Linked DNA regions of Homo sapiens. The protein of the gene in region 4 interacts with the protein of the main gene of each other region in a pairwise test. Each region holds a gene or a part of one and is shown on either strand. Other genes may lie near its edges.

Region 1 (3,565 bases), on a different chromosome or scaffold from region 4:
GCAGCGCGTGTTTCGTGACGCCGGTGACTACCTGCCCCGCCCTCCCTGCACACACGTCAGAGTGGGCCCTTTAACGAGCCGTGGCCCGGAAGCAAATTTCCGTGCTGATTGGCCAGTGTGCGGCCCAGCCCCCCTTTCTCCTCATCCTGATTGGCTACTGACAGATTGTCCCGCCCTTCCCCAGGACAGATGGGGTTTTAACCCTTTCCCTGCCACACTGAAGCAATAGTAATTGTAACTCCAAACGTTTACGGAGGGTTTTCCGGTTCCCAGGACCCTGGCTAGCTGTCTTACCCGCAGTAGCTCATTAAATCCTCAAGTCATCGCTCAAATACACCCCCACTGGCACCCCAACACCCTCCTACCCTCCCACCCAGGTGCCTTCGCTGGGTACTGGAACGTGACCCTGATCCCCGAGGGCGCCAGACACATCCGCGTGGAACACAGGAGCCGCAACCACCTGGGTATCCTAGGATGTGAGGCGAGAGGCACCCGGCTGGGCACCCGGGGGCGGTTGTCCCTGTTTACAGATGGGGAGACTGAGGCCTGAGGAGGGGACCCCAGGGTCTGGGAGACGAGACGACAGGTTCCTGAGGGCTGACTGTTCCCTTGCAGCACTGATGGGGGGCGATGGGCGCTACGTGCTTAATGGGCACTGGGTGGTCAGCCCACCAGGGACCTACGAGGCGGCCGGCACGCATGTGGTCTACACCCGAGACACAGGGCCCCAGGAGACATTGCAAGCAGCCGGGCCCACCTCCCATGACCTGCTCCTACAGGTGCCACTGGGCCTCCAACAGGGTCAGAGGGGGTCGGCTGGGGACAGAGGGGAGAGGCTGGGGACAGAGGGTAGGAGTGGAGGTGACTGGGGCCAGAAGGGGGAGTCTGGGGTCAGAGGGGAGAGGCTGGGACAGAGCATCAGAGGGGGGAGGGTGGGGACAGGGTCAGAGGGGATCAGCTAGGGACAGAGCATCAGAGGAGGGAGGCTGGGGGCAGACAGGATCAAAGTGGGGAGGCTGGGGTCGTAGGGTCAGAGGCAGGAGGCAACCCCAGCCTCCTGTGAAGCTCCCTGTGTCCCCTCCCCTGCTCCAGGTCCTCCTGCAGGAGCCCAACCCTGGCATCGAGTTTGAGTTCTGGCTCCCTCGGGAGCGCTACAGCCCCTTCCAGGCTCGTGTGCAGGCCCTGGGCTGGCCCCTGAGGCAGCCTCAGCCCCGGGGGGTGGAGCCTCAGCCCCCCGCAGCCCCTGCTGTCACCCCTGCACAGACCCCAACGCTGGCCCCAGGTGAGGTGGGGACAGCCAGGGTGGGGGATGAGTGGGGACTGAGGCCTGTGCCCCTCACAGCACCGCCCATCCCACAGACCCCTGCCCACCCTGCCCTGACACCCGCGGCCGCGCCCACCGACTACTCCACTATTGCGGCAGTGACTTTGGTGAGACCCCCGACCTCTACCCTGACTTAGCCCCTACTAACCTGGCCTCCTCCTGACCTCTGACCCTAATCTGACTTTACCCTTGACCCCTTCTTCTGATCCTAATTTGCCTCTTGACCCTAATCCCTCATTGATCCCTGACGTGATCCTGACTCTAGTCCCTATAGATCCCGAGGTCCCACCTGACCCTCAGTCCCTCTTCTGGCAAGGGAGGGGGCGTAGAGATTTGCGCAGAGTTGAGCAGCCAGCCAGCTTAGCACGTCCCCTCAACAGTGTTCCAGGCCCGAGTGCTGGGCCACCACCACCAGGCCCAGGAGACCCGCTATGAGGTGCGCATCCAGCTCGTCTACAAGAACCGCTCGCCACTGCGGGCACGCGAGTACGTGTGGGCGCCAGGCCACTGCCCCTGCCCGATGCTGGCACCCCACCGGGACTACCTGATGGCTGTCCAGCGTCTTGTCAGCCCCGACGGCACACAGGACCAGCTGCTGCTGCCCCACGCCGGCTACGCCCGGCCCTGGAGCCCTGCGGAGGACAGCCGCATACGCCTGACTGCCCGGCGCTGTCCTGGCTGAGCCCCTGCAGGAGCCCCGGCCACACACAGCAAGAAAGATACATCTGACCAGCCTCAACGTCAACGTATTTCCCCTCTCACCCTGGCTTCCAGGCAGCTCTGAAATACGTCCCACCTGTGCAGCTATGTGACTCCCTCCCACACACGCTTAAGACACCTCTGCATGCAGTCAAAGCCACTGTCACAAGCCGGCAGGCACTGGTGAGGAGGCACTAAGGAGACTCTGACTTTTATTTCGCCTCTCTCCTTGGCTGCCAGGAAGCTCATAGCTATTTATACTCAGAAAGTTTAACGCTGCTTTCTTTCTCTTTGCGCGCGTCACACTTGCTTGGAGACACTGTCATGAACGAGCATGACACCCTGCTGCCCTGGGTACCCAGAAGATCATCTGTTTACTTCCCAGACACTGTGCTGTCTCTGCTCTCTGCTACTCACACACACCCTCATGTGTGAAGGGCAGAGACACTGTCACAAACAGGCATGCCCCTTAGAAGACATGCCTAACCAGGCACTGTAACGTACCAACGTACCAATTTCCCCTTTTCCCCTGGCTACCAGGAAACTCGGAGACAATCTTTTCAGCCTCAGCATTTCTGGCTGGATTTCCACCCATCAACACGTGCTTGCTCCTCCTTTTTTTTTTTTTCTGAGGTAGACCCTTGCTCTGTCACCTAGGCTGAAGTGCGGTGGTGCAATCATGGCTCACTGCAGCCTCAAATTCCTGGGCTCAAGCGATCCTCCCACCTCAGCCTCCACAGCAGCTGGAACTCCAGGTGTGAATCACCATGCCCGGCTAACTTTTAAATTTTTTGTAGAGATGGGGTCTTGCTACGTTGCCCACACTGCTCTCCAACTACTGGCCTCAAACGATCCTCCTGCCTCGGCCTCCCAAAGCACTGGAATTTCAGGCATGCACTATCGTACTGGCTGTTCACCCCCCTTTTATTCCTCTTTAATTTTTACAAGCACTTTTTAAAAAAAAATTTTACTTTAAGTTCTGGGTGTGTACAGAATGTGCAGGTTTATTACATTAGTATACACGTGCCATGGTGGTTTGTGGCACCCATCAACCCATCATCTAGGTTTTAAGCCCCACATGCATTAGGTATTTGTGCTAATGCTCTCCCTCCCCTCGGCCCCCACCCCACAAAGGACCCGGTGTGTGATGTTCCCCTCCCTGTGTCCATGTGTTCTCATTGTTCAACTCCCACTTGTGAGTGAGAACAAGTGGTGTTTGGTTTTCTGTTCCTGTGTGAGTTTGCTGAGAATGATGGCTTCTAGCTTCATCCATGTCCCTGCAAAGGACATGAACTCATCCTTTTTTATGGCTGCAGAGCACTTTTTTTTTTTTTAAGCACCCCAGTCACATGCACTCGGTCACAGAGACTCAGGGACACGCTGGTAGAACCCCGTCTCGACCTTGCTCATGGGTAGGCACGCATGTTCACACGCACCCCACCCCTCCTCCTGGTCCAGCCTCACCTCCTCCCTGCACGTCTGACACTGTGTGAGGTGAGGGCAGGGAATAGAGGAGGATAGGAGCAGGTGGGGAATGAATGG
Region 2 (4,316 bases), on a different chromosome or scaffold from region 4:
AGACCCTGGAAAGCTGTTAACAGCTCAGCTTGTCACTTTCACCATCTGCATTTGTCCAGAGTGATTGAGATTTGCGTTGTTGTGGAGAGAAAGGCGCCTGTTGCACAATGGAGTGAGATTGCCACTGCTGTCAGGACCTCTGTGTTTGGCTTGACACTTTTTGAGTTCTCAGCAGTCTCGGGACCCTCAAGAGTGGAAGCATTTTTGGATGTTAAATGCTGGGGTTAATTGAAGTTAAGAGCTTGTTTTACTGGGCATGGTGGCTCACACCTATAATCCCGACACTTTGGGAGGCCAAGGCGGGCAGATCACTTGAGTCCAGGAGTTTGAGACCAGCCTGGGCAACATAGCAAAACCCCATCTCTACAAAAAATACAAAGCTGGGCGTAGTGGTGTATGCCTGTAGTCCCAGCTCCTTAGGAGGCTGAGGGGAGCAGATCTCTTGAGCCCAGGAGGCAGAGTTTGCAGTGAGCCATGATCGTGCCACTGCACTCCAGCCTGGGCAACAGAGTGAGATCCTGTCTTAAAACAAACAAAAAAAACAAACTTGTTTTCATTTAGACTCTTCCTGGCGTTGGGGACCTATTGGAATAGGTTTAGTGTGAACTGAGAGCTAGAAGTGTTAGAGGAGAGAGGGAGGGAACAGAGCCCGCTGGAGCGAGTGCCCTTCCTACCTTATCACTGCATGCCAGGCATGTGCCGGCGCTTTGGTCCTCCTCATTTCATTCTTGACTGCCACCTGAGACACGATGGTTACTAGCTCCATTTTATAGGTGGTGAAACTGAGGCTTGGGGAAGGTCAGACCCCAAGGGTGCCATTTAGTCAGTGGCAGAGCCAGATCCAAATGCAGGTCTCCTGACTCCAAGTGCAGGGCTCATTTTATCGTCCGGTTGCAGCACGCTGGCGGCCCCTTGAGCCCCAACCTGGATACCATAGGGGAGGAGCAGAGAAGCCAGGAACACCACAGCCCTGGGCCAAGGTGCGGGGCTGAAAGAACTTCCCAGCGCTCAGCCTGGGACTAGTGGAATGGGCTGGGCCCTGGGGCTGGCAGCGGTGGCCCCGGGGAGCCTGGGAATGAGTAGGGAGCACAGGGAGGTGTGGGAGGGCCTGGGAACCATGAAAAGGAGGGCGGGTGCAGGGAAGTCGCCTGCTAGTGAAGTGGCGAGGGGGCCCTGTGGGACTCCAGGGAATGGCCACGGCAGGTTGTCCTCCAGGAGTTGAGAGCCACTGGACATGGCAGCTGCCTGTGTTCTCAGCCACCACAGTAACCAAAGAAATCTTGGTTTTAAAATTCAAGTTGCCATGGAAACGCTCCCATCCTCGACTTGGCTTATTATTTAAAATAACATCTCTACAGCACAAAGCCCCCGGGTACATCCAAGGACACTGCTGTCTGCCCACGAGACATGCTAACCTCACAGTGTGGAGGCTGTGTGGGTCACTGACATGCATGGCCACGTGAGACGCTGCCTACCCACGAGTCACGGAAAAGGGGAAGATTATTAAGAAAGTCACTAGGGGCCAGGTCCAGTGGCTCATGCCTGTAATCCTAGCACTTTGGGAAGCTGAGGCAGTTAGATCCCTTGAAGCCAGGAGTTCAAGACCAGCCTGGCCAACATAACGAAACACGGACTATACTACAAAAATTAGCCAAACGTGGTAGCACAGGCCTGTAATCCCAGCTACTCAGGAGGCTGAGGCACAAGAATCACTTGAACCTGGGAGGTAGAGGTTTCAGTGAGCCAAGATTGCGCCACTGTACTCCAGCATGTGCCACAGAGCGAGACTCCCATCTCAAAGTCACTAGGGAGGAAGCCTCATTGGTGGGAAGGAAGACCAAATTGGAAATGCTCTGAGGAATCATTAAAACAAATGTCCTTTTATCAGTTTGGTGGCTCAGGGCCTTTAGTAATACTGCCAACTATTTTTCCTAGAAGAAACAAAACTGAAATAATAGGAACATACTCACTTTTTTTTTTTTCTTAAAAGTAAGGGTATGTTGTGAAAAAAAGTCTCCCCACCGTAGTGACCGACTGCCGTGCATCTTCCTTGGCATTTTGCATGTAGTGGCAGGAGTGTTCCTACATGTGTAGATTGCTGAGAGGGTCAGATGCTTATGGTCCTCAGTCACCCACAGCTTGCTTTTTCCCCACTTAACATTGGGACTTGGGGCATTTTTACTCTGTTAATACAATAGAATTCACTTCAACTAGTTGGTTTTTTACTTTTATTTTATTATTATTATTTTTAGATGAAGTCTCAATCTGTCGTCCAGGCTGGAGTGCAGCCTCTGCCTCCTGGGTTCAAGTGATTCTACTGCCTCAGCCTCCCAAGTAGCTGGGATTACAGGCATGCGCCACCACGCCTGGCTAATTTTTTGTATTTAGTAGATACAGGGTTTCACCACCTTAGTCAGGCTGGTCTCTAACTCCTGACCTCAGGTGATCCAACCGCCTCGGCTACAGGCATGCGCCACCGTGCCCCACCAACTAATTGCTTTTTTAATGGTTGCTTCATATTCTATTTAACCACTTACCGTAATTTAACAGTTACTCTGTTATTGGATACTTGATTCATTTCCAGGACATGCAGATTTAGAAACTGGTGGGCGTTGCTGGTTGATGTCTCGGTGGTTGTGCCCACCCACCCCAGGCACTCATTATCATGCCTTCCGTTTCCCCACTTCCTAAGCCCTGCAAGAAGTGCCAAACTGTCCAGCCCTTGCCAATCTGATACATGCTGAATACCTCCTTGATTTTATCTGCACCTCCCTGAGGTTGAACTTATTTTACTTTATTTTATTTTATTTTTGAGGCAGAGTCTCACTGTCACCCAGGCAGGAATGCAGTGGTGAAATCTTGGCTCACTGCAATCTCCACCTCCTGGGTTCAAGTGAGTTGAAGCAATTCTCCTGTCTCAGCCTCCCAAGTAGCTGCGATTACAGGCACCTGCCACCACACCTGGGTAATTTTTGTATTTTTAGTGGAGACGGGGTTTCACCATGTTGGCCAGGCTGGTCTCAAACTCCTGACCTCAGGCGATCCACCTGCCTCAGCCTCCCAAAGTGCTGAGATTACAAGCTTGAGCCACCATGCCGGTTGAACTTATTTTTATCTGTGTTGGCCATTTGTAGTTTTTCTATTATGCTGGTTCCATTTTTCTGACTTTGAAGAGCCTTTTGTGGAAACGAAGCCTAAAGTATATGTGAGTACTGCTTTGTTTCGTCAGTTTTTGTTTTAAAGAGACTTTTCAGTGTAATGCAAGCATTTTCCCTTGAAGGCTGTGTTTCCTGTCAATCCTAAGCTTTCCTCCAGCATTACCTTTTTAAAAAACTTTATTTTCTATATTGATGGGGTCTCACAATGTTGTCCAGGCTGGTGTTGAACACCTGGCCTCAAGTGATCCACTTGCCTTGGCCTCCCAAAGTACTGGGATTATAGGCATCAGCCACCGCACCCAGCCTGTTTTTCAAAGGGCATTGATTTTTTTCATAAAACTTTTTAAATTAAGATCTGTGGGCCTGGTGCGGTGCCTCACGCCTGTCATCGCAGCACTTTGGGAGGCTGAGTCAGGTGGATCACGAGGTCAGGCGTTCGAGACCAGCCTGGCCAAAATGGTGAAACCCTGTCTTTACTAAAAATATGAAAATTAGCTGGGCATGATGGCACATGCCTGTAATCCCGCTGCTCGGGAAGCTGAGGTAGGAGAATAGCTTGAACCCAGGAGGCAGAGGTTGCAGTGAGCCGAGATCATGCCATTGCACTCCAGCCTGGGGGACAGAGTAAGACTCCGTCTCAAAAAAACAAAACAATTCTGTGTTGCATGTGGTACTTTTTGTGTGTGAGGAGTCCAGTGTGAAGATTCAGACTTCAGGCAGCCACTTGTACAAGCACTGTCCTGTTTCCTCTCTGGCCTCACCTAGGTAACGCTGATTCCTCCACGGAGGATGTGCTTCTGAGTGGTCCGTTGGGTGCTGTGCTGATGAGCATCACCCAGCATTTTACGACACATGTGCTGCCCCAGAGGGCTGGGCTCCCGTCAGAGCTCTTTTCCACTGGCTGGGTGCGGTGGCTCACACCTGTAATCCCAGCACTTTGGGAGGCTGAGGCCAGTGGATCACCTGAGGTCAGGAGTTCGAGACCAGCCTGGCTAACATGGTAAAACCCCATCTCTACTAAAAATACAGAAATTAGGTGCGTGTGGTGGCGCACACCTGTAATCCCAGCTACTTGGGAGGCTAAGAACCTGGGAGGTGGAGGCTGCAGTGAGCCAAGATTGTGCCACTGTACCCCAGACTGGGTGACATGGCCCACAG
Region 3 (4,857 bases), on a different chromosome or scaffold from region 4:
TTTAAGGAGGTGCATTTTACGTAAAATGTAATGGCTGGAAGAGCAAAAATAAACTTGTAAATTACCTAACTGGGCTGCGGTTTTGAGTGCACGTCAGGCGGAGAGAATTAAACTCAACCCTACACCCTGGCAAAGTGCACTGTGCGGATTATTTCCTTGGGGTAGAACTTTGAGACTTTCATTTGCGATTCTTTACTTTCCACAGATATCTAGTGTATTTGGTGAAACTTTTGTTCAAGCTTAGGGTCCCAACAATTTCCTTAGAACAAGCCTGTTTGTAGTAAGATCTCCACAAGCTCAGTCTGAGACAAACACCTGGGACGCCTCGGAAGACCCTGTAAAGTGCGGAGATTGAGGGTACGATTGGTCATCAATTTATTGGATCTTACTCTGAGTCCGGTTGGCCCAACCCCAGACTCCTCGATCTCCTCCACCTCATCCCCTCAGGGTCACAAATGTTGATTCACAAAAGACTTCTGTGAGGACAAACCAAAGATGGAGGGCCGCAGCCGCCCGGACTCCCGCACTTCCAGGTGAAATGCTTGGATCCAATGAGAGGAAGAGAACGGGCACACTCCTCCTCTAATTGTTTTGATAACTTTCCATAAGTGGTGTGTGTGTGTGTGTGTGTGTGTGTGTGTGAGAGAGAGAGAGAGAGAGAGAGAGAGAGGAGAAGAGAGAGAGAAAGAGAGACGCTTTACAGTCGGAGCATTAATGGGGCGGCAGGGGGAGGGCGAAGAGGGGAGGGAGCAGACAAATTCGCTGCATGCTTATTTACCTGCAAGTCGTCTGCTCCCGCGGCGGCCAGCCCCAGGCTGGGCCCTGGCAGGAGTCTTTGATCTGGGTGCATTCCATACTGAGAGCCATGGCTCATGAGGGACAGGTCATGGCGGCGGTAGGCATCGAGGCAGCCCAGCTCCCGCCTCTGCTCGTCCAGGCAGGACGACTTGAGCGCCCGCGCATTGTGCAGGTTAATAAAGTCGGTGGGCTCCCCGTGGTGGATCTGCTGGTAGTACTGTTGCGAGTGGTGGAGAGAGTTCAGAGAGTAGGCGTCGGGGGTGACGGCCGGGTGGCTGTGCTGAAACTCGTAATGGAAGGACTGGTGGTGGAGCGGGGTGTACTGGTGGTTAGTGGAGAAGTAGGGGGACGCAAACTCGGTGCCGGTGGTGGAGTAAGTTAAAGGAGAGGAGGAGGAATAGGCGACAGTGGAATTGGCTACTGACTCCAGACAGCCAAGCTGCATCAAACGGTAGCTGTTTGATCCGTCGTGACGTATCTGGAAGGAAGAGGGGGAAAAGGGAGAGCAGAAAAACTTGAGGTTTGTCATTTTGCAACCAAGGCGCCGCTCTCCCGGAGCCAGGAGCTTTCTCTGGCACTCCAAGGAAAGCGAGCGCGTAGGACTCGGGCCGAGCCGAAGCCGGGTCTCAGCGTCTTCACCAGAGAGCCTTTGCAAACAGGCGAACTGGGGGTGGGCGGCCTCGTCCTCACAGTCGAGAGAGCGGAAAAAAAATCCCCCACCCTATATAGGTGCGGGTGACACCACACACGCACACACACGCACAGACACACACACACAGACACACACACAGCCCCTGCCCAACTTGTGCAGGGAGCTTGGCGTTGGGATCCAGGTTTGCAACTGACTCCGGGGCCGCGGGTAGCAGAGGAACGAGTCCACCCGAAAAGAGCGCTGGCCCGGGGCGCCTTGCCACTCTAACTAGACCCCAGCATCGAAATTCTGCGCCTGTCTATGCCGAGATGTTCGGCCCGGGCTGCTCAAAATCATTGTCCATATATTTTAAAAAATCCAGTCTGTGCAAATCGTTCAACTTGCTCCCTTCCTTAGTCATTCGAGGGAGGGAATCCGACTCCCTCTTTTCTGCTTCCCTTTCCTTGAATAAGCCCATTCCAAAAGGGGTGCGTTTTCCCCATCCCCCTTGTGCATCTACTGCTTCCCCACCAGTCCCTTTTCTTTGCTTTTCTGAGAATCTTTCTTTCCGTCTCTATCTCTTTCTCTTCACTCCCCCCTTTTATTATTAAGATTATGTTTTCCCGCTCATTATGGCAAATGTTTCTTAACGTGGCAGAGAGTTGCCCTCCCTGGCGACAGATGTCATAACGAACTTTCTCCCCTTTCCTTCCTTAACTTCCCCCGAAAGACAGATTATAATTAAACGTAACGGTCCAATATAGATTAGAGACAGGGGAGGCTGCCACCGCCGCCGCCACCGCCGCCACCGCCGCCGCCGCCACACACACGCGCGCTCAAAAAAAAAAAAAAAAAAAAGTAATAATACCTCGGCATCGTGGACTAGTCCCGGAAAGGTAGTTGACATGTTGGGTTTCTCCGAAAGCTTACGATGCAATTTCCCCCTCCAAAAAAAGAATCGGGAAAAAAAAATCCAAACTTCTTGTATTTTCCAATTTTTAAAGGAAAAAAAAAATGTTCTATAGGTAGATATCTAAATTGTAATGGTTTTGCCCGGATCAGATAGCTCCTTGCCTCGTACCCACTTAAAAACCTGTAGGAACAAAATTTTCCCTCTGCACAAAAGCAGCTCCCTGGAACAGATTTTGTACTTGCTGAGTATTTCTTTGGCTGATGTCGTAGGTCCCTTGGTAATATAGAAGTTTTGAAAATTAAGCATCAGCACTGAGAACTGGGAGGACAATAGGCAGAAGAGATTTATCCCAGGAGACAAGGAATAAATATTGTATCTTCGCCTAATAAGGAACTGGAGGTTCTTTCAACATTTTTATCCATTTTTTCCAACCTTTATCATGCTTTTCTATACCGACTGAGGTGGGGACTTATCTCTGTGGAGAGTATTTGCACACATTTTATTGTGAAGCTAGAGCTCTAGCTCCAATATATGTATATTAGAGATAGAAATATATATTAATTAAAGCTTCCTTTTATATGGGGAAGTGTTCATTCCTATTGGTTCCACTCCCTGGATGCTGAAAGCTGCTTTTTCCAACAACCACCCGAATCAATTTTGCCCAGATTGGGGTGTCTGCCTTCGCCCAAGTGGAAACAATGCTGGTCTTTCCATATTTACATTGAATTTGGGTTCTTTCCCCTTTTTTGAAAGGCAAAATCAAGCGGTGGCTTACACTTTTCAGCAGCTTTAAAAATAAATAATGGTGATGGACAGTCCCAAGTTTCCATCATCAGGAAATGGTGTAACTGGCAATGCATTTAGGAAAAATGCAAGGGAATAAAGATGTAAGACAAGATTCTACATTTAGGTAAACTGTTGTCTTTCACTCCCCAAACCAAACCATATCCCCCCTCTTTTGTGTTTTTCTTCTTCCCTTTTGGAAACACTGCTGGTGGTGGTGGGGTGTAGACCGTTCAGCAGTAGCATTAGGTTTTTGAACACTATTACCCCCAAAATAACCCTTAAATGCTTGGAAGTTATATTTTATAAATAGAGGGCAGGAAGGAAGCAGTGCACACATATTTCCATCTCTTCAGTGGATTTCTTGACTTTCAAACAGTTTTTGAGCTTTCCTTCCTTCAAAATTCAGCTTCCTCCACCAAGTTGTTTAGTGCCTGGAGGGGGTGGTGGTAGCTATAAACCTGAAATACTGAGGCTTTGCTCCTCAGTGTCTACATTATAAGAAAGAACTGGCTGGCCCCACAGACTCATCTCATAGATAGAAGGGGTAATTCAGTCTTAATTGCCATTTCATTTGGTTTGCTTTTAAGTGTTTAAGCTGAGAAGGTGTCTTAATAATAAGCCTCAGGCAAACAGGCATGTGGCTTTTTTTTTTTTTAGGTTGGGGTTTGGGAGGGTTTATTAGGATCTGCTCATGCAGGCTAACTGGGGCTGTCACTCAGAGCTCTTTGCTTTATACAAATGGACAAAGGCACACGACAAGAATTGAAATGCATTGTCTGAAATGGAGATACACGATTCTTCAGCCCCACATGGGGTCAGCAGCCAACACTTGTTCCCTATTTCAAGGTGTGCCAGTGCTGCCCCCCTCCCACCCCTCCTTGAAATTCCATATTTTGGCCTAATGAAGTAAGGAGACTGAGAGACCAATGATGACAAAAAGGAAGAATATCCAACTTAATCTTTAAGTAAAAGGGGTAAAATGAGTGCTGTTGGCTCTAGGGGTTGAATCCCAAAAATGTTTGCAGTGGAGTCTTTGTTTACCAGGTCTGAGTGGGGCCTCCATAGCTTACCCACGGAGAAAATAACTAATCATCTCTGGGAGATGGAGACTGCCCCCACGACCTTAACTCAGGCACCCCTGCCCCTGGGAAAGTGCAGACCATTCCCTGGAAGAATATGTAGGACTTGCAGGTTATCTTGGGGAATGCCCAGGTGCGCTTTTCCTGGTGGATGATATTGGCTTCCCAGTTAGTCCCGGTCAAATGGAAGAGGATAGCCCTTCTCAGACATGTTGCAATCTCCTTTCCAACACCCCTACTGTCAGATACACCTTCATTGAAGGTGACGGTACCTTCTCTTCCCAGTTTAGGTCCAGGCAGCAGACACAAAACCCTCTCCCCGGGGAACAACAATGAGGAAGCTCAGGAAGATGTGGCCGCCTGCTCTGCCTGCTGGCCCAGAGTGTTTGTTCCACATGTTTGTCCCTGTCTGGAATAAGAGCCACACATAGCCCCCCTCACCCCTGCCACCGCACTCAGAAGATATAGCTTTATGATACTCTCGGTAATGAGCTCTGGCCTTGAACTGAGTACACCCCATGGAATGACCTCCAGTAGCCTGGACCCTGTGAACATCAGGACATCACCAACTAACTGGCAATCATCGCATTCCACCCCCTAACCCCACTTTCATGGTTCACTTTCCTGAGTGACTTTTAGGTATCCAAACA
Region 4 (4,996 bases):
TGTCACCCAGGCTGGAGTACAGTGGCACGATCTCAGCTCACTGCAACCTCTGCTTCCTGGGTTCAAGCAATTCTCCTGCCTCAGCCTCCCGAGTAGCTGGGACTACAGGCATGTGCCACCACGCCTGGCTAATTTTTGTATTTGTAGTGGAGATGGGGTTTCACCACGTTGGCCAGGCTGGTCTTGAACTCCTGACCGAATGATGCACCCACCTCGGCCTCCCAGAGTGCTGGGATTACAGGCATGAGCCACTGCGCCCGGCCCTGACCACCTCAGCTTGTGCTGTTGTCACATTTCCTTCATCCACAGTGACCTGGGCAACCTCAAGGTGCCCCCTCTGGGGCCTCTCTCAGCTAACCTCCCACCAGGGAGCCCACTAACCACCCTTCTACCCTGTCCCTTAGTCCAGGGCTCCCAGCGCTGTGAACTGAACTGCCGGCCCCGTGGCTTCCGCTTCTATGTCCGTCACACTGAAAAGGTCCAGGATGGGACCCTGTGTCAGCCTGGAGCCCCTGACATCTGTGTGGCTGGACGCTGTCTGGTGAGGGAAGACAGTGTGTGTGTGCACACACACATGCATATGCACACAGACACATGCCCCCATATGCATACACATGTACACACATATGTATGAACACATGCACACATGCAAGCACATACACACACGCATATGCGCACAGACACATGCACACACGCACACACACACACGCACACACACGCATATGCACACACATGCACATGCATATGCAGACACATGCATGCACATGTGCACACGTGCATGAACACATGCACACACACGTATGCAGACACATGCACACACATGTAGACACACATGCATGAACACATGCACACATGCACACACACGTATTTGCACAGTCTCAATTCAACAACAAAACACCATACTGAGATCACTGAGGGAGAATTCTCACCTGCCAAGCTGCGCTGAGCAGAGCCTGAAGGATCTGATCGGGCACCTGTCCATGTCCCTGGGTCTGGCTGGGGATGGTGGGGCTGTTTTTGTGCTCTCACTTGTGGCACAAAAAGCAGGGTAGTGAGCTGAGGCTCCCGAGGGGACCGGGGTGGGGTTGAGGTGGTGTCTGGCGTTCTGTGGCCACTGCCTCACCTCACTCTCTCCAGAGCCCCGGCTGTGATGGGATCCTTGGCTCTGGCAGGCGTCCTGATGGCTGTGGAGTCTGTGGGGGTGATGATTCTACCTGTCGCCTTGTTTCGGGGAACCTCACTGACCGAGGGGGCCCCCTGGGCTATCAGAAGATCTTGTGGATTCCAGCGGGAGCCTTGCGGCTCCAGATTGCCCAGCTCCGGCCTAGCTCCAACTACCTGGGTGAGCACCCAGCTGCCTCCCCTTCCACTTCCGTCTCTGTTCGGCCCTCCATACCCCTACTCAGAGCAGTGAGCAAGCCAAACAGGGGGAAGTCCAGGGCCTAGCCCCTCCCCTCGTGGAAGGAGTGAGGAAGCTGAGAGGGCTTGGGGGGATCTTAGGTTCTGGTGGGAGCTTCTATAGGCTAAGGACACGGTGTGGGAGGAGGAAGGTATTATCACCCTGGAATTTCCCGATCTCTCACCTCTGACCCGCAGCACTTCGTGGCCCTGGGGGCCGGTCCATCATCAATGGGAACTGGGCTGTGGATCCCCCTGGGTCCTACAGGGCCGGCGGGACCGTCTTTCGATATAACCGTCCTCCCAGGGAGGAGGGCAAAGGGGAGAGTCTGTCGGCTGAAGGCCCCACCACCCAGCCTGTGGATGTCTATGTGAGCCTGGGGCCAGGGGCAGCTGAATGCTGGGGAGGGAGGCTGTTCCCTCTGGGCAGAGCTGTGGTTGTCAAGATGGGAGAGAGAGCTGGTGGCATCCTCTTCTGGCCACCCCCACATATTCATTATCTTCTCTTCTCCCCAGATGATCTTTCAGGAGGAAAACCCAGGCGTTTTTTATCAGTATGTCATCTCTTCACCTCCTCCAATCCTTGAGAACCCCACCCCAGAGCCCCCTGTCCCCCAGCTTCAGCCGGGTAAGACTCTGACCCCTGCACTTGGAAGGAGGAGGGAGAGGCTGCAGGGCTGGCTCGGGGCAGTGGGGTGGCATCTGATTCGCCTGCTCCCCTGCACAGAGATTCTGAGGGTGGAGCCCCCACTTGCTCCGGCACCCCGCCCAGCCCGGACCCCAGGCACCCTCCAGCGTCAGGTGCGGATCCCCCAGATGCCCGCCCCGCCCCATCCCAGGACACCCCTGGGGTCTCCAGCTGCGTACTGGAAACGAGTGGGACACTCTGCATGCTCAGCGTCCTGCGGGAAAGGTGAGACATCACAGTGCGTTCCCCGCATCTCGGTCCAAACCCCCCAACTGACACTCCCGCATCCTGGATTGTGGGGCCACGCCCGACCCTGCGTCTGGGACACCACTGAGCTTGGGCTCTAGCCTCCTGCCTCCCTGGCTGCCTTCTCACCCACTCAGGTGTCTGGCGCCCCATTTTCCTCTGCATCTCCCGTGAGTCGGGAGAGGAACTGGATGAACGCAGCTGTGCCGCGGGTGCCAGGCCCCCAGCCTCCCCTGAACCCTGCCACGGCACCCCATGCCCCCCATAGTGAGTATGGGGGAGCCCACGGGGAGGGTTAGGGTACTGGAAACACAGCAGTTGCCCCCAGAATCTTACCTGAACTCTGCACTCAACGCAACATCTCCTGGCTGCAGAGAGACAACATTAGATTAGAAAGGCAGACATTCGGTAGGCAGCAAGAAAGCCATGGCAGGCTGAGCCCCCCAGGAACCCAGACTCCAAACGCCAAACGTGCCCACTCTCCTCTGAGGCCCCCACGTCCAGTGTGTCTTCCATCTCTGCTGCCACGGCAGCCCCACACATCTCATCTATGTCTCCGCCTCTTCCCTGCCCTGCTGGTGCCTGCAGCTGGGAGGCTGGCGAGTGGACATCCTGCAGCCGCTCCTGTGGCCCCGGCACCCAGCACCGCCAGCTGCAGTGCCGGCAGGAATTTGGGGGGGGTGGCTCCTCGGTGCCCCCGGAGCGCTGTGGACATCTCCCCCGGCCCAACATCACCCAGTCTTGCCAGCTGCGCCTCTGTGGCCATTGGGAAGTTGGCTCTCCTTGGAGCCAGGTGAGTTTGCCCAGGCAAGGAGGTGCTGGGGAGGGGAATGGGCACAGGTGAACAACAGCAGTGGTTTTTCAACTTCTTTTTCATCAGCAGAAACTATTTACAAACAGGGTTTCATATGGACCCCCAATATAGAAGTCAGATAAGGGACTGAACCAGGGACTGGGGGCCCAGGGCCCTAGGGCTCAGCCTCCTCCTCAGCCCACGAAGCCATGTGACTGCTGGGCTGGGGATCGAAGGCAGAGCCTGGTTCTGAAGCCTAGAGCTGGAAGCTGGCTGAGAAGGTCTGGGAAGCCCAGCTCCCTGGATTCCCCTCGCCCCCTCAGTGCTCCGTGCGGTGCGGCCGGGGCCAGAGAAGCCGGCAGGTTCGCTGTGTTGGGAACAATGGTGATGAAGTGAGCGAGCAGGAGTGTGCGTCAGGCCCCCCGCAGCCCCCCAGCAGAGAGGCCTGTGACATGGGGCCCTGTACTACTGCCTGGTTCCACAGCGACTGGAGCTCCAAGGTGAGCCCGGAACCCCCAGCCATATCCTGCATCCTGGGTAACCACGCCCAGGACACCTCAGCCTTTCCAGCATAGCTCAATAAACTTGTATTGATCAAGCGCCTGCTATATGCCTGACCCTGGGAACTCAGAGATAAGTGAGAACAACTTCCATGAGGGGCCCGGCTAGGATTCCTCGTCCGGGCCTGGTACCCGGGGACATTCCCAACCACCCAGGATTCGGACCCAGGATGCGTCCCTCCCTGCCCCCCTACTGTCCCTTGTGCCAGTCACCAGCAGGCCCCTCACACAGGCCGCTCTCCTCCTCCGCAGTGCTCAGCCGAGTGTGGGACGGGAATCCAGCGGCGCTCTGTGGTCTGCCTTGGGAGTGGGGCAGCCCTCGGGCCAGGCCAGGGGGAAGCAGGAGCAGGAACTGGGCAGAGCTGTCCAACAGGAAGCCGGCCCCCTGACATGCGCGCCTGCAGCCTGGGGCCCTGTGAGAGAACTTGGCGCTGGTACACAGGGCCCTGGGGTGAGGTAAGCTGAGCGCCTGCTGAGAGCAGGAAGGGGGTGCCAGTCCCAGTGGGATTCCTTGTGGGCACTTGGGGTGCTCTCTGTCCTCCCCTCCCCTCATCACCCTGCCCTCCCCCTACACTAGTGCTCCTCCGAATGTGGCTCTGGCACACAGCGTAGAGACATCATCTGTGTATCCAAACTGGGGACGGAGTTCAACGTGACTTCTCCGAGCAACTGTTCTCACCTCCCCAGGCCCCCTGCCCTGCAGCCCTGTCAAGGGCAGGCCTGCCAGGACCGATGGTTTTCCACGCCCTGGAGCCCAGTGAGTGTCTGGCTGCGCTGTCCTGCCCTGCTCAGCCTGGGCCCCTAGGGGAGGGGAGCTCCTCTCGCTGTACCCCCTCCAGGTCTCTCTGTGCCCCAGAATAAGCCCAGCCAAGCGTTACCACTGTCCTACTTCTTATAGACTTGGAGGAAAGATGGGCCCTCTCCATTTGGGATTTCACAATGTCCTAGGAGGGTCCCCACCACCACCTTTTGGGGAGAGAGGTGGCAGCCAGGGGTTAAGGAGAATCCCGGGCCTGGCAAAGGTCTGATATGATGGCTGGGGTCGCCCCAGTGTTCTCGCTCCTGCCAAGGGGGAACGCAGACACGGGAGGTCCAGTGCCTGAGCACCAACCAGACCCTCAGCACCCGATGCCCTCCTCAACTGCGGCCCTCCAGGAAGCGCCCCTGTAACAGCCAACCCTGCAGCCAGCGCCCTGGTAAAGAGCCCCCTCTCCCCAATCCCCAATACAGTGGATTAGCTGAAGTATGGGAGGAGATGAGAAAGGACCAGTGGGAATGGGCAGCACACCCATTCCCAGACGGGTGGGTCCT

What was found. The genes of interacting proteins can lie anywhere in the genome.
Region 1: the proteins of ADAMTSL4 (region 4) and ADAMTSL5 interact in binary tests that used the Homo sapiens proteins (3 or more experiments, as listed by UniProt).
Region 2: the proteins of ADAMTSL4 (region 4) and CTSB interact in binary tests that used the Homo sapiens proteins (3 or more experiments, as listed by UniProt).
Region 3: the proteins of ADAMTSL4 (region 4) and TFAP2D interact in binary tests that used the Homo sapiens proteins (3 or more experiments, as listed by UniProt).

Annotation. Positions count from the first base shown.
Region 1 is NC_000019.10:1,504,456-1,508,020, reverse strand, and holds the end of ADAMTSL5 (ADAMTS-like protein 5 isoform 2 precursor), read left to right. Parts: coding exon 1-23; exon of another isoform or gene 24-29; intron 30-377; coding exon 378-464; coding exon of another isoform or gene 465-476; intron 477-615; coding exon 616-779; intron 780-1,092; coding exon 1,093-1,282; intron 1,283-1,359; coding exon 1,360-1,431; intron 1,432-1,704; coding exon 1,705-2,006; 3' UTR 2,007-2,999; downstream 3,000-3,565. UniProt on the Homo sapiens protein: May play a role in modulation of fibrillin microfibrils in the extracellular matrix (ECM).
Region 2 is NC_000008.11:11,854,522-11,858,837, reverse strand, and holds part of CTSB (cathepsin B isoform 1 preproprotein), read left to right. Parts: intron 1-897; exon of another isoform or gene 898-980; intron 981-4,316. UniProt on the Homo sapiens protein: Thiol protease which is believed to participate in intracellular degradation and turnover of proteins. Cleaves matrix extracellular phosphoglycoprotein MEPE. Involved in the solubilization of cross-linked TG/thyroglobulin in the thyroid follicle lumen.
Region 3 is NC_000006.12:50,711,535-50,716,391, reverse strand, and holds the start of TFAP2D (transcription factor AP-2-delta), read right to left. Parts: upstream 2,867-4,857; 5' UTR 2,337-2,866; coding exon 2,298-2,336; intron 1,277-2,297; coding exon 779-1,276; intron 1-778.
Region 4 is NC_000001.11:150,555,025-150,560,020, forward strand, and holds part of ADAMTSL4 (ADAMTS-like protein 4 isoform 1 precursor), read left to right. Parts: intron 1-404; coding exon 405-541; intron 542-929; exon of another isoform or gene 930-1,028; intron 1,029-1,123; exon of another isoform or gene 1,124-1,137; coding exon 1,138-1,342; intron 1,343-1,583; exon of another isoform or gene 1,584-1,596; coding exon 1,597-1,769; intron 1,770-1,914; coding exon 1,915-2,026; intron 2,027-2,125; coding exon 2,126-2,311; intron 2,312-2,469; coding exon 2,470-2,599; intron 2,600-2,668; exon of another isoform or gene 2,669-2,700; intron 2,701-2,920; coding exon 2,921-3,125; intron 3,126-3,212; coding exon of another isoform or gene 3,213-3,268; exon of another isoform or gene 3,269-3,448; coding exon 3,449-3,625; coding exon of another isoform or gene 3,626-3,700; exon of another isoform or gene 3,701-3,724; intron 3,725-3,937; coding exon 3,938-4,141; intron 4,142-4,262; coding exon 4,263-4,442; intron 4,443-4,736; coding exon 4,737-4,881; intron 4,882-4,996. UniProt on the Homo sapiens protein: Positive regulation of apoptosis. May facilitate FBN1 microfibril biogenesis.